Regions from separate parts of the Homo sapiens genome. Here region 2 is linked to region 1. A link means that fine-mapping ties the variant in region 1 to the expression of a gene that starts in the linked region. Tissue or cell type: whole blood. Region 1 holds a variant in brackets; the other region holds the start of a gene. All regions are shown on one strand. Distances are between the middles of the regions.

Evidence for each region. PIP is the estimated chance that this variant, and not a neighbour inherited with it, causes the effect.
Region 2: it holds the start of PANK2, and the variant in region 1 is fine-mapped to the expression of PANK2 in whole blood (TOPMed, PIP above 0.99). The same link has a PIP of 0.9 or more in blood mononuclear cells.

What each region holds. Positions count from the first base shown.
Region 1 is chr20:3,966,734-3,974,838 of GRCh38, forward strand. The region is part of intron 1 of RNF24 (ring finger protein 24); the gene reads right to left. Among named protein-coding and RNA genes, the nearest start is that of RNF24, 45 kb to the right of the region's middle. The variant G/T (reference allele first, on the strand shown) is at 4,233.
Region 2 is chr20:3,884,958-3,893,044 of GRCh38, forward strand. It overlaps PANK2 (pantothenate kinase 2), which reads left to right and starts at 4,430. Exons shown (of 7, transcript NM_001386393.1): 1 at 4,430-4,771. The coding sequence starts at 4,474. It overlaps PANK2-AS1 (PANK2 antisense RNA 1), which reads right to left and starts at 4,216. Exons shown (of 2, transcript XR_001754478.3): 1 at 3,782-4,216; 2 at 1,412-3,592. RefSeq lists an enhancer at 3,505-4,056 and silencers at 4,065-4,124, 4,315-4,814.

The DNA of each region.
Region 1 (8,105 bases):
GGAGTGAGGCCAGTGGTGTGGGAATGTTGCCCTGCAGAGTTCTTGAAATTGGTACAATTCTTGTAGCATTCTGTACAAAGACTCAGACACACACAGCAGTAGAGGTAGTAGCACTGTCATCAGAGGGAAGAGACATCTGCCTTAGTGCTGCTGGGGGCTGGATGTTGAGACTTTTGTGAGTCCTCACTACCTGGCAGGGCCTTTTAATAAATCCCAATTACCAGAGGGATCCAGGCTGGTAGAAGATATGTTGATGCGAATATATTTTAGGAATTTTTCTCTCTTTGTTTTAGTAAATAAAATGGCTTCACTACAATTGATATGTTGGCCCAACAATTTTAAGTAGATGGTAGAGTATTCCAAGATGTTAATCCTGATCCAGTGACACATTAGTTTTTACAAAATTTTTATCATAATGTATTTTCACCAGAAGTATTAATCTTTTAAAATAAATTGATAAAAGGCTACATATCATCTTAGTAATATGCATTCTTTGCTATTGAAGTCTTACAAATATAAGTTATTTAGTAATTGCTCCTTGTGGGAGTGAAGAGGAGAAATAGAACATACAGTACACTGTTGTAGCTTACTTGGCATTTCCAACTTCATTCACGTGAAAGCCTTTTTTTCCCCTTATGTAAATTCAGTTCTTGAAATCTCTAGCCTCAGCCTAAATTTCAAACCACCCAGTCAGTTTATTAAAATCAAACCAAAACAAAAAAAAAAGACAAGAAGATTTGAGTATTTTATCAGCAATCTTAGAACCAAGAAGTTCTAAGAGGGACAGATTACTTGAGATTTGGATGCCTACATGACCTGAGTTTAACACAATACACCACAGCTAAATGGGGCTGCAGTAGCATTCCTCAAAGCATGCTTGGTAGCCACATTCTTCTTAGACCAGTTCCTGTTCCCTGGACAATACCATATCATCTTCCCAGGAGTCAATATTCTAGTTTTGCTTCAAAAATGCTCAGAAGTGCCGGGTGCAGTGGCTCATGCCTGTAATCCCAGCACTTTGGGAGGCTGAGGCGGGCAGATCACGAGGTCAGGAGATCGAGACCATCTTGGCCAATATGGTGAAACTCTGTCTCTATAAAAATACAAAAATTAGCTGAGCGTGGTGACGCATGCCTGTAATCCCAGCTACTCGGGAGGCTGAGGCAGGAGAATCCCTTGAACCATGGAGTCGGAAGTTGCAGTGAGCCGAGATTGCGCCACTGCACTCCAGCCTGGCAACAAAAAAAAAAAAAAAAAAAAAAGAAAGAAAGAATAAAAAATGTAACAGGTGGCTGGGTGCGGTGGCTCACGCCTGTAATCCCAGCACTTTGGGAGGCCCAGGTGGGCAGATCACGAGGTCAGGAGTTCGAGACCTGCCTGGCTAATGTGGTGAAACCCCGTCTCTACTAAAAAATACAAAAATTAGATGGGCCTGGTGGCGTGCGCCTGTAATCCCAGCTTCTCAGGAAGCTGAGGCAGATTAGCTTCAACCTGGGAGGCAGAGGTTGCAGTGAGCTGAGATCGCACCATTGCACTCCAGCCTGGGACAGAGCAAGACTCCATCTCAAAGGAAAAAAAAAATGCTCAGAAAGGGGCTGGGTGCAGTGGTACATGCCTGTAACCCCAGTACTTTGGGAGGCTGAGGTGGGAGGACTGCTCGAGGCCAGGGATTTGAGACCAGCCTGGGAGACACAGGGAGACCCCACCTGTACAAATAAAAATAAAAATTAAAAAATTAGTTGGGCATGGTGGCATGTGCTTGTAGTACTAGTTACTCTGGAGGCTAAGATGGGAGGATCACTTGAGCCCAGGAATTCAAGGTTACAGTGAGCTATGATATCACTGCTACGCTCCAGCCTGGGTGACAAAGCAAGACTATCTCTAAAAGAGAAAGCTTTTGACATATTAGAAGGAACTAACTTCTTTGTTATTTATTGAGTATCTTTATGACCACATGAAACACCTTCTGCAAAATCTTTTCTTGAGTGGGTGGATGAGAGGAAAGATTAAAAATTTTAAAAACATGTCACTGATCAGTAGAAAGACCTAAGCTTTCTGATGAAATGGATACACTGGGTTCTAGAGAGAATTATTTTAAAAATAAGACCTATATTTGGACAGATCCTAGTAAAATTTCTGAATTCTAGGATAGAAAAACTGTGATAAGTTTCCAAAAAAAAAAAGTTGTTATAATGGAAAGCATATAGATTTGAGATTTATCCTAGGCCATGAGTATTAGAGTGGGCTTATGGAGTCAGAGAGCCAGGGGTTTAACCACGGATTTGTCAGTAATTTGGGGCTTGTTTCTTATCTTTTCTATGTCTCGGTTTCCTCATCTGATAAGACAGAATAATACTAGTAACTATTTCATAAAGTTTTAAGGGAATTAAATGACTCAACACACGAAAAGCACTTAAAGCACTTAGAACAGTACCTGGGCACATACTGTGTACTTGAGAAATGTTAGTTTTCATTATTAACTAAAATGCAACAATAAAAGATAATGGAATCACTGTCTGTATCTCCATTAAAAGACAGTCAGGTAGACTTCTGACTCCAGAAAGATGGCATAGACATACATTTCCCTATTTATCCAGCTAAATATAACTAAAAACCATGGACATTAAGTTGGACAGAAGGTAGCACACTAACTAGGGACCTGGGGACCCAAGGAACCACATGTTAACGAGTTCTCTGGGCTTTGTTTTTGTCTCCTATATCCCAGACTTAGAGCTGGCAAAGTTGGCAAACAAGAATGTCAACAGGTGAAGACAAAAAAAAAAAAAAGCCCTAATGAACGTGTTCTCTCTAGCCAAAGGATGACAAAAGGAGTAGTTAACAAGACTGAAAGCTTTTAAACAAGAATTGCCCTACTTCAGCTAAACAACCCAGAAAAAACTATGGCCACACCCCTATAGACATGCCAGCAAAGGCTGAAGGCAGAGCCTAGATTTTCACTCTTGCCAGGATGTAACGAGATGCCCCCCAGCCATCTTGCTGGGATAGTGTTAGAAAAGGCCAAGTAGGAAGCTGAAATCTGTTTTTTTTTTTTTTTTGAGATGGCGTCTTGCTCTGTCACCAGGCTGGAGTGCAGTGGTGTGATCTTGGCTCACTGCAACCTCCGCCTTCCAGGTTCAAGCGATTGTCCTGCCTCAGCCTCCCGAGTAGCTGGGACTACAGGCGCCCACCACCATGCCCAGCTAATTTTTGTATTTTTAGTAGAGACAGAGTTTCACCATGTTGGCCAGCTGGAATTTTTACACAACATGGTGAAAATGAGGCTCCACCTCAGTGATATCAGTAGAGACTACATGTGGACCCTGACTTCTACCCCTATCCAGCAGTAACAAAGTGACTATACTCCTCCTCAATGGGGTGATGACAGAGGAGGATCTCGTGAAGAATCGGGATTTTACCACCACCAAGTGGCAACAAGCACTCCTACCTTTTCCAGCCAAAGAGGTATCAGTGAAAGCCTAGTTGAGAGCTGGAACTCCCATTCCTGCCCCGTCCCCGCCCCCCATGTCAATAAAGGCTAAATAGGGAACCTGGACTTCTACCTTTACCTGGCATTAATGAAGCAGCATTACAACCCACCGTTTCACTGTCAGAGTGCTGTCAAAGGAAGCCAGTTAACACATCAGGTTTAAAAAAAATCCAGAGTCTCATAACATAATACACAAAATGTCCAGGTTTCAACTAAAAATTACTCATCGTACCAAGACTAGGAAGATCACAAATCAAATGAGAAATGATAATTAACAGATGCTAATGTCAATGACAAAAATGTTAAAATTATCTGACAAAGATTTTAAAGTAGCCGTCATCAAATTGTTTAAGCAAGCATTTATGAACATGCTTGAAACAAGTGAAAACACTGAAATTCTCAGCAAAGAAACAGAAGATATAAAGAGGAACAAAATGGAAATTATAGAACTGAAAAACACAATAATTGAAATAAAAAAACTAAAACTAAGCGATGGGCTCAACAGCAGAATGGAGAAGAAAGGGGAAAGCATAAGTGAACTAGGGCCAGGCACGGTGACTCACACCTGTAATCCCAGCACTTTGGGAGGCCAAGGTGGATGGATCTCTTCAGGTCAGGAGTTCGAGACAAGCCTGGCAAACATGGTGAAACCCTGTCTCTACTAAAAATACAAAAATTATCCAGGCATGGTGGTGGGCACCTGTAATCCCAGCTACTCGGCAAGCTGAGGAATCTGTACATAAGT[G/T]TACAGATTTAAGAAGCTGAACAAACTCCAAAGAGAATAAACCCAAAGAAATCTACAACAAGACACATCGTAGTCAAACTTCTGAAAACTAAAACAACAACAACAAAATCTTTTTTTTTCTTTGCAGAGGTAATTGAGTTAAAACAACACTAAAAAATCTTGAAAGCAACTAAGGAGATACCATTGGGGGAAATAATATGAAAGACACAGATTTCTCATCAGAAACAATGGAGGCCAAAAGGAAGGAACACATTTTTCAAGTGCTGAAAGAAAAGAGCCATCAACCCAAAATCCTACATCCAGCAAAAATACCCTTCAGGAATGAAACAGGAAATCAAGACAGCCTCACATGAAGGAAAACAACGGGAATTTATTGCTAGCAGACCTACTCTTGAAGAGTGACTAAAGGAAGCTGTCTTAACAGAAGGGAAATGATAAGAAAAGGAACCTTGGAACATCAAGAAGGAAGAAACAACATGGTAAACAAATATAAGGGTAAATACAATAAACTTCCTTCTCTTGAGTTTTCTAAATTATATTCAGTGGTTGAAGAAAAATTATAATTGTCCAACCCGGTTCTAAATGTATTCAGAGGAAATATTTAAGATGAGCATATTAAAAATAAGGGAGGATAAAGGGACATAAAAGGAGGTAACATTTCTAGTCTGAACTGGTAAAGTATACTAGTAGACTGCATATATAATACAATGCCTACAGCAATCAGTAAGAAAACTATACAAAGACATACACTCAAAACACTACAAAAAATCAAAAAGGACTTCAAAAAATTACTCAAGTAACAGAAACAAAAATAGTGAAAACAAATAGAAAACAAAGTTTAAAATGGCAAGCTTAAGTATAAATGATTTAAATATGCCAATTAAAACACAGAGACTGGCAGAATGAATTAAAAAACATCACCCAATAATATGCTGTCTACCTGAAACTCACTTTAAAAATAATGATACATGCATGTTGAAAAGGATGGAAAAAGATATGTAATGCAAGCATTAATCAAAAGAAAGCAGGAGTGGCTATATTAACATCAAAGCAGATTTCACAGAAAATAAAATTACCAGAGAGAGAAAGAAACATTACCTAATGATAAAATGGTCAACCCACTAAAAATACATAGCAATCCTAAATGTGCATGCACAAAACAACAGAGCTGCAAAACATGTGAAGGAAAAACTGACTGAACTGAAAGGAGATATAAAGAAATCTATAATTATACTCAAATACTTCAAAACCTTCTCCCAACAGCTGATGAAACAACTAGATAGAAAACCAGCAAGGATAAAGAAAAATTCAACAACACAATTAGACAACAGGATCTACTCAAAATATATAGAGCACTCTACCTAGCAACAGCAAAATATACATTCTTTTCAAATACCCATGGCACCTACACCAGGACAGACCACATTCCTGGTCATAAAACAAATCTCAAACAACCTTTCAAAAATCGAAGTCATATAGAGTGTGTTACTGGACATAGTTGAATCAAACTAGACATTTATAACAGAAGGGTAGCAAGAAAATATCCAAACACTTAGAAACTAATCAACACACTACTAAATAATCTATAAGTCAAAAAGAGGTCTTAAAAGAAATTTTTAAAAATACACTGAATTGATTGAAAATGAAAATACAGGCTGGGTGTGGTGGCTAACGCTTATAATCCCAGCACTGTGGAGGGCCGAGGCGGGCAGATCACCTGAGGTCAGGAGTTCAAGACCAGACTGGCCAACATGGTGAAACCCCATCTCTACTAAAAATACAAAAAAATTAGTCGGGCGTGGTGGCACGCACCTGTAGTCCCAGTTACTCAAGAGGCTAAGGCACGAGGATCGCTTGAATCCTGGCGGCGGAGATTGCAGTGAGCCGAGATCGCGCCACTGCACTCCAACGTGGGCGACAGAGTGAGACTCCGTCTCAGTTTAAAAAAAAAAAAGGGCTGGACGGGATGGCTCACGCCTGTAATCTCAGCACTTTGGGAGGCCGAGGCGGGTGGATCACATGAGGTTAGGAGTTTGAGACCAGCCTAGCCAACTAGGTAAAACCCCGTCTCTACTAAAAACACAAAAATTAGCTGGGTGTGGTGGCAGGTGCCTGTAATCCCAGCTACTCGGGAGGCTGAGGCAGGAGAATTGACTGAACCCGGGAGGTGGAGGTTGCAGTGAGCTGAGATTGTGCCACTGCACTCCAGCCTGGGTGACACACGCGAAACGCCATCTCAAAATAAAAAAAAAAGAAAATGAAAATACAACATATCAAAATTTGAGAGACATAGGTAAAGTAGTGCTGAGTGGGCAATTCATGGTACTAAACGCACACATAAGAAAATAAAAAATCTCAAATCAATAATCTAAACTCCTACATCAAGAACCCAGAAAAAGGGCAAGTTAAAAATTAAAGAACAGAAACCAGTTAAATTGAGAATAGGAAAACAATAGAGAAAAATCAATGAAACAAAAAGCTGAGTCTTTTCTTTGAAATGATCAGTAACACTGACAAATCTCTAGGAAGAATGACAAAAAAAAAAAAAAAAAAAAAAAAAGAGAAGACACAAATTACCTATATCAACAATTAAATAGGAGAGATCACTACAGACACTGCAGACATCAAAAGGATAAGAAGGGTATACACACATATACAGACATAAATTTAGTAACATAAATAAAACAGACCAATTCCTCAAAAAACACAAACTACAAAAACTCACCCAATATAAAATAGATAATGTGAACAGTTTTATAACTATCAAAGAAACTGAATTAGTCATTTAAAAATTCACAAAAAAGAAAGCTCCAGGCCAAGAGGCTTTTACCAGAGAATTCTACCAAAAGTTTAAATAAGAATGAGCACAAATCCTTGACAATCTTTTGCAGAGAATGGGAGGGAACATTTCTCAAGGCATTTTTTGAAGCCAATGCGACCTTGATAGCAAAACCAGATAAAGACAGTGTCTGGCAAATACAGACAGAAAAATTCTTAACAAAATATTAGCAAGTAGAATTTGGCAATATGTAAATAGAATTTTACAACACCATGACCAAGTAAGGTTTATTCAAGAGATGCGGGGCTGGCTTAATATTAAAAAAAAAAAAAATCAATGTAATCTATCCATATTAAATGGCTAAAGAAGAAAAATCACATGATCATATTAACTGATTTAAAAAAAACACATTTCACAAACATCAGCACCCAGAAATTAAAAAACTCCCAGAAATAGAAATGGAAGAGAACTTCTTCAACATGTTAAAAAGCATCTACAAAAAACAAACCGGCAAAAACCAACCAAACAATAACAACAAAAACTGTACAGCTAATATTATTCTTAATTGTGAAAGACTGAATACTTACCCCCCTAAGACCGGGAACAAGGCAGGATATCTGCTCTCACCACTCTTATTCAACATAGTGCTGGAAGTTCTAGCCAGTGCAATAAGGTAGAAAAGGGAATAAAAGGCATACACATCAGAAAGGAAGAAATTAAACTGAGCCTATTTGCCACATCAACATCTACAACAACAAAATCCCAAAGAATCTTCAAAAAAATTTCTAAAACTAATAAATGAGTTCAGCAAGGTTGCAGGATACCAGATATACATATAAAAATCAACTGTGTTTTTATAAATTAGCAATGAACATAGGAACACTGAAATTATAAATACAATGACATTTACAATTGTTCAAAAAAAGAAATACAAAGAATTAAATTTAATAAGACATTAGATATGTACAGGACTTATATGCTAAAAATGACAAAATGATGATTAGAGGAATCAAGTAAAATCTAAATAAATGCAGAGACATACTATGTTCATGGATTTGAAGACTCAGCATAGGAAAGATATTCTCTCCAAATTG
Region 2 (8,087 bases), 82 kb before region 1:
CTAGGGGCTTAAGAACTTCATGTTCTTCATAGCTTTGCCTTTTTTTTTTTTTTTTTAACCCCCTCATACCTTTGTCCTTTGAGAGAGACAGTTAAGTAGGTAAGGTCTTCCCAAGTCCTCACACCATTACACTCTGGCCAAAAGGCCTTGTGTTTGAAACAGGCCTGATCTACACCCCTCATGTCCTCGGCACCGACGAAACACGATGACATGAGAAAGAACTTGGTGTTTAAGCCTCTGTGCCTGGCAATCTTGTGATGTCTTTTTTTTTTTTTTTTTTGAGATGGAGTCTTGCTCTGTCACCCAGGCTCAAGTTCAGTGGTGCCATCTTGGCTCACTACAACGTCCGCCTCTGGTTTCAAGTGATTCTCCTGGCTCAGCCTCCTAAGTAGCTGGGATTAGAGGTGCCCGCCAACACACCAGGTTAATTTTTGTATTTTTAGTGAAGACAGGGTTTCACCATGTTGGCCAGGCATGTCTCGAACTCCTGACCTCAGGTGATCCGCCCACCTTGGCCTCCCAAAGTGTTGGGATTACAGGCGTGAGCCACTGTGCCTGGCCTTTGTGATGATATCTTAATTTTTACTGCTAATGATGCTCTACTTTAGCTGCAAGAAAGCTCAAGGGAAGTCTGCCTCCTGGCTCTTAGAGAGCAGGAACAGACGAAGACGTGAATCATTAGGGGGCAGAAGGCGGACTATGGGCTCCAAGATGGCCTCCAGAGATTCTCTTCCTCCTGATATTCATGTCCTTGTGTAGTACCAACCTACACTGAATAGGGATGACCTGTGTGATAACAGGATATTGCATAAATGATGGAGTATAACTTCCCAGCCTAGGTCATAAAAGACATTGCGATTTGTCGTTTTCTCATCCTTCACTAGCTCTAGGGAAGGCCTGCTGCCATGTTGAAAGGACACTCACGTAGTCCTATGAAAGCCTGCATTGTGAGCTGAGGCCTCCTGCCAACAGCCAGCACCAACTTGCCAGCCATATGAGCAAGCCACCTTGGAAGTGGATACCCCAACCCACTACACTTTCAGAGGACTGCAACCTCTTGAAAGATTCTGAACAAGAACCACCCAGCTTATCAATCCTGAATTCCTGACTCACAGAAACTGGGATAATACATACATACATACTACTGTTTAAGCTGAAGTTTTGGTGTTTTTACCTAGCGATAGGCCTCTAATGTGGTAGATGAATATTTTGTATGATGTTTTGTCATTGAAACGGCTCTCGATTTTCAAGTCATTCCTTTAGAATCTGGCTAGTTTCTCTGAAGCTCTATGCTTACCATTCTTGTACTTATTCTGGTGTATACAACCAGAAAGTTGGCTTCTCTCTAGGGGTAAATAACCGGAGAGTGATAAAGAACTTAGTTCTCACTATAATAACCACAGAGAAAGGATGCCTCTTGTTAGGTTCATTTTACTTTTTTTTTTTTTTTTGAGACGAGTCTTGCTCTGTCACCCAGGCTGGAGTGCAGTGGCGTGACCTTGGCTCACTGCAAGCTCTGCCTCCCAGGTTCATGCCATTCTCCTGCCTCAGCCTCCCGAGTAGCTGGGACTACAGGTGCCTGCCACCATGCCTGGCTAATTTTTTGTATTTTTAGTAGAGATGGGATTTCACCGTGTTAGCCAGGATGGTCTCGACCTCCTGACCTCGTGATCTGCCCACCTCGGCCTCCCAACGTGCTGGGATTACAGGCGTGAGCCACCGCGCCTGGCCTCATTTTTTTTGAAAAAAAATAAAAAATAAAAAATAAAAAAATCTAAGCTTAATCATAGATTTACCTTACTCTGCTCCAAGGCAATTTTTCAACTTTTTAAAAAATAAATGTTTTCTTTCAGTATAATACCCAAAAAAGTGCACAAAATGTCTTGATAACATATTACAAAGGGAACACACCCATGTAACCCCCACCCAGATCAAAGAAACAGAATATCATTAGCCATCTAGAAGCCCATTTGGTCATCTTCATTTTCTTTTTTTTTTTTTTTTTGAGGCAGAGTCCCACTCTGTTGCCCAGGCTGGAGTGCAGTGGTGCAATCTCAGCTCACTGCAACCTCTGCATCCCAGGTTCAAGCAGTTCTTCTGCCTCAGCTTCTGGAGTAAGTGGGATTACAGGCACGCACCACTACGCCCAGCTAAGTTTTGTATTTTTAGTAGAGACAGGGTTTCACCATGTTGGGCCAGGCTGGTCTGAAACTCCTGACCTCCAGTGATCCGCCCGCCTCAGCCTCCCAAAGTGCTTGGATTACAGGCATGAGCCACTGTGCCTGGCCTAATTTTTTTTATTTTTTATTTTTTGTAGAAGTGGTCTCGAACTTGTGGTGTGCCTTCTTATTTATTTATTCATTTTTTTTTAGAGACGGAGTCTCACTGTCTCCCAGGCTGGAGTGCAGTGGCACGATCTCGGCTCACTGCAACCTCCGCCTACCGGATTCAAGTGACTCTCCTGCCTCAGCCTCCCAAGTAGCTGGGATTACAGGTGCCCACCACCACGCCCAACTAATTTTTGTGTTTGTTTTTTTTAGTAGAGACGGGGTTTCCCTGTGTTGGCCAGGCTGGTCTCGGACTCCTGACCTTGTGATTCGCACGCCTCGGCCTCCCAAAGTGCTGGGATTACAGGAGTTGAGCCACTGCGCCCGGCCGCTTTCTTTTGGTTATCATAAGGCGGGCAGTAGCTGAACTTCTCAGGAGTCCAAGCTCTGTCATTCTTTAGGCTTTGTGCTTCTGGATAAGTTACCTCATCATCCAAATGTTACTGCAAGGACTAAGTGAGATGTAGAGGCAGTGGGCAAATTGTGTAAAAATACTACTGTTTCAAGTGTTTTGATGTTGGAGTTCATCTTGCCAGCCAAGGGATGATGATACTTTGATTCTTCAGGATGATCAGAGCTCAGACTTGGACGGAAGCTCCCTCAGGTCAAGGAGGACCACATTTTTTGGGGGGTGGAGAGAGGAGGCAGAAAGAGAGGCAATGTCAGGCACTGAGATTTAGAAGAGTAGCTATAGCTGTTTTTGGTTCTTGTAGATCCGTCTGTGTTGGCTTCCTACAGGAGCTAGAATTTTCAGAGCTAGTCCTACAGTGAGGGGAGCTAACGTGGAGTGGGCGTGAGAATTCTATTCAGCAAGCACAAGCGAAGCTCAACCTTTTTGTTCAGCCTGCTACAACCAATCATTATGGGAGAGGGGAATAAGGATCACTGCCCAAGGGGCATTAGGATCACTGCCCAGTGGGCATTACAGTCTCCCCAGGGAGGCACTCTTTTTTATTTTTTATTTTTTTTGAGACGGAGTTTCGCTCTTGTTGCACAATGTTGGGTCACTGCAGCCTCCGCCACCCGGGTTCAAGCAATTTTCCTGCCTCAGCTTCCCAAGTAGCTGGGATTATAGGCATGGGCCACCACGCCCCGCTAATACGGAGGCACTTTTAATTAGCCCACAGTCCAGTGAAATTTGACGGAGTGAGGAAGTGACCTCAGAGTACAGAACGGGATGGGATCCTTCCGGGCTTGGGCAGCCTTTGGTAGTGGGGATGCTTGGAAGGGTCAGGGTCTCAGTCCTGGAGGTGACCAATTTTTCTCTCCAAAAGAGAAAGGAAGATGATTAAAAAAAAAATCCATGCTCCAAAGCGGCAGCCAAATCCTTCTATGGCCCCCAATGCATCACCCAGAAAGGGGCTCCAGACTCTCCTGCAAAAGGCCAACTCTACTTCCCGGCTCCCACTTCCCCTCCTTCGCCACAGGAGGGTGGCGAAGGATTTATAACCCACCTCTTTCTTTCAGTTGCCATGGAGACAAGCCCCAGTCCTTTCATTCCTTCTGGTACCTCTCTCTCCAACGCAGGCGGAAAGGAGGCGGCTTAGCCCAAACATGCTGGGGGAGGGGCTGGCGGCCTCGACGGCAGCTGCGGAACTAGGCCGAGGGACAAAGGCTAAGGTCAGCCGCGGTTCAAGCCCTTTCGTCTGCCGACGACCAGCGGCCAGACGCTGCGGGAGCACTGCTGGGCTGGAGGAGGGCTCGAGCTGCGAGGACGGCACGGAGCAGCGGGGTGGGACTCGGGGTCGCCCCAGGAGAGTTCCGCGGCCCGGGGGGGCAGAGGCATGCACAAGTGGGGGGCGGAAGGAGGGGGTGGATGAGGAGGCTCGGGCCCTTCCACCCACGCGTCCATTGGGCGGCGCCGCCATCACTCTCTTCTGGGCTACACCGCCTTCTCTTCCTCCGCGGAACCCGGATCCCCTCCTCCACCACCCTCTCCCCGCCCCGTCACGATAGCCTCTCATTGGACGGAGGCACGGTCAATCCTCCTCGAGTTAGGGAGCCGACTGGACGCGAGGCCTTTGGGCCGTCCCCAGCCTCGTCGGATTGGCTTCCTGCGCGTTGGCGCAACGGAAGAGGCGGCCGGCCGAGGGCGCGCCTCTGCTCTGGCTGGACTGCCGCGGAGGAGGCGAGAAGGAATCCGACGCTGGGGGGCTTGCTCGGGCGGCAGCGACTGCTGCTGCGGATGGGAGGGGGCCGGCTCGGCGCGCCCATGGAGCGCCACGGCAGGGCTTCCGCCACCTCCGTCTCGTCGGCTGGGGAGCAGGCGGCCGGGGACCCCGAAGGGCGGCGGCAGGAGCCACTGCGGCGCCGGGCGAGCAGCGCGTCGGTGCCCGCGGTCGGGGCCTCGGCTGAGGGCACGAGGCGGGATCGACTGGGCTCTTACAGCGGCCCCACCTCGGTCTCCCGCCAGCGCGTCGAAAGCCTGAGGAAAAAGCGGCCGCGTAAGTGTTCCGTGGGGCGCCCTCCCGGCCCGCCCTGCCCCCCCTTCCGGCCCACCCTGTCCCCTTCCGGCCCCGCCGCCGTTTTTCCCGCGCGCGGACACTGTCCCCGCACGGTGGTCCCTCGTTGGTGCGTGGCCTGACATCCGGCTGGAGGCCTCGGGTGCTCCGAAAGCGGTACCTTCGGGGGCCCCCCCGCACCCATTGGTATGCACTTCCCGCTTGTTGGAGTGGAGGGCTTTTCCCCAGGACCTGTCCTCCCTTTTCTTAGCTCCTTGGGCATTCTCTTCCTGAGGGTCACATGATTTTATCCTCGAGAAGGCTTCTTTTGACTCATTTCCACCTCCTTTCCTCCCAAATCCTTTGAATCCCCAATGTTTGTTTTCCGTGGGTTTCCAAAGAGCTGCTCTCTAATACTTTAAGTCCCTTTTATTCGTCAATTTCGGGCTTACTGGAAAATGGTGAACTGCCCCTTGAGTTGCACCAGGCCTGAAACTGTATTCCGTGCACCTCTAAGGTGGCTGCCCTTCTTCTCGTGAGAATCCAGGTCATCTCTCACCCACATATCCCCTCCGTTTTCCTTCTGTCTATTTGCAGGTACTCACGATTCAGAACTGTGGCATTCTGGGCATTAAGGCTCTTTGTTTTGAGGGGAAACAACATCTTTCTGAATTTTGCCTTGGGAGTTGCATACGCTCCTCCCAGAGAATCCGTTTCCCCATTTTATTAGGTTTCTTTTTCTGTGTTGTGTATTTTCTCCCCTTTACAAGTCTTCAATTCAGGACCGCTGCCTGGCAGCCATTGCTGCTGTTGAAAGTATCAATTGTCCTGATACTGTAATATGAGCTTTACAGTGTGATGCCATTTTACATATGGTTGGACTTTTTGGTGGGTGTTGCCAGATTCCTATTTCAGGAAATTGACTTGTTTAAATGCAGATTGTGAGAGGGAGGGAAAATGGCAAGATGTGAGATTTTTATTGAATAGTCTTCTACCTTAGCCCAGTCACCCAACTGCTTTTTTGAATCTTCTCTGATATGGATGATTAAATGTAGTTCTATTTTGCTGTGAAAAGTTTGGGAGTTTTCAGTTCTTTTGTCTTTTTCCATCTTCTTGCAACAGATTTGGAAAACAGATTCTTAACCTGTGCCATTTTCAGAGTCAGTCACCTAGTTTTGTTTTATTTGAGAAGCACCTGAGTTTGAAGCAATGCAAAATATGAGATCCTTCATGGTTTTGTATTACATCGTTGGAAATGGATGTAAATTCCAAAGATTCAGCAAATAAGAGTATAGCCATTAGCCACAAGGGTTTTTTTGGTTTGTTTTTTGTTTTTTACTTTGAGACAGCGTCTTGTTCTGTTGCCCAGGCTGAAGTGCAGTGGCATGATCATGGCTCATTGTGGCCTTAACCTCCTGGGCTCAAGCCATCCTCCTGCTTCAACCTCCTGCATTGCTGGGACTAAAGGCACGTGCCACTATGCCAGGCTAATTTTTCAATTTTTATTTTTTTAAATAGAGATGGGATCTCTTATGTTGCCCAGGCTGGTCTTGAATTCCTCCTGGTCTCAAGCGATCTTCCCACTTCGGCCTCCCAAAGTGCTGGGATATAGACGGGAGCCATTGTGCCCGACCTGGCAGTCGTCTACTAAGAGCTTTGGTAACTCATTAGCCTCGTGGCTCTGAGGTAGGTGGTAGTATTCCATTTTACAGATGAGAAAACTGGGACACGTTTGCCCGGTCAAATGGCTAGTGCGTTGTGAAATAGAAATGTAAACTCAGAATTGCTAGCTTCATAGCTTTTGCGGTGGACCACTGTGTTTTTCTGAATTATTTACGTTCTGTTAGTTATTTCTTCATTGCTCTAAGACCAAGCATAAGTTTGATCTTTTGTGTTCAAGACTGACTTACTTGAGGCGAAAATTTTTAGATACTGTGGAAGTACTTCCAAATATTGAGCATGAGAATGACCTGGTAAAAGTGCAGATTCAGTGGGCCCAGTTAAGCTCCTCATATTCAAATACAGGTGACTCAAAGACCACACTCAGAAAAACCGGTTTACACTGGGTGGGGAGAATTATATTAAGGTAGTTTTGAAACTTATTTTAGGGAACTAAGTAGACACATATTCATGCTATAGGATTTATATTTTGTTTTGATGTTTGATGTTTGTCGTGATTCCCTTCATTATCTTCTCTGGCTGATAAATCATGAAAACCCATCTTTCCAGTATAAGACCTGCTAAAGGAATGAACAGGATACTGATTGTTCTTCCTTCCATTTGTTTCTTCTGTACTATCTAGGGGTGCCCCTGTTAGGTGGAGAAGCAGGCTGGGCGCAGTGGCTCATGCCTGTAATCCCAGCACTTTGGGAGGCCAAGGCGGGTGGATCACCTGAGGTCAGGAGTTCGAGACCAGAGACCAGCCTGGCCAGCATGTTGAAACCCCGTCTCTACTAAAAAATACAAAAATTAGCTGGGCGTGGTGGTGCATGCCTGTAATCCCAGCTACTCAGGAGGCTGAGGTGGGAGAAACATTTGAACCTGGGAGGTGGAGGTTGCAGTGAGCCGAAATTGTGCCAGTGCACTGCAGCCTGTATGATACAGTGAGACTCCTCAAAAAAAAAACAAAAAAAAAGGAGAAGCAGCTTGTTGACTGCCGAACCCTCCTAGAGTATACTTCAGTCTTATCTCTGAGAGAATTCAACTAAGACTAAATCTTTTTTATTTATTGTTGGGAGGTTTGGGTATGGAATGGTGCCACCTTTCTGGTGAAACCCTATCTCTACTAAAAATACAAAAAAATTAGCCGGGTGTGGTGACGCGTGCCCGTAGTCGCAGCTACTCGGGAGGCTGAGGCAGATAATTGCTTGAACCCGGGAGGCAGAGGTTGCAGTGATCGAAGATCGCGCCACTGCACTCCAGCCTGGGCGACAGAGCGACTCTGTCTCAAAAAAAAAAAAAAAAAAGCCTTACTCTGATACCGCACTACTTGTCTAAAGGTGCAGATAGATACTAGTTGTCATTTGAAAGTCGAAGGAGCTATTCAGGTTATCTTAGGCATTCTTGTGGTCCTGGTTGTAGTCGTGTTCTGTCACGCGTTTCCTAGAGCAGTGTAGTTCCCAAACCGGCCCTTGTCCCAGACTTACTGCATCAGAATCCCTAGCGATGAGGCTAGGCATGTGTATATTTAAGTTCTTCAAAAGTTTTGCATCAGGTGGGGAGGGGGGTATGTCTCGCAGGGCTGAAAGAAATACCAAATAAAGATTGATTTTAAAATGATGGAAACCAAGACGCTAATGATGGTAATGTAGCTACCATT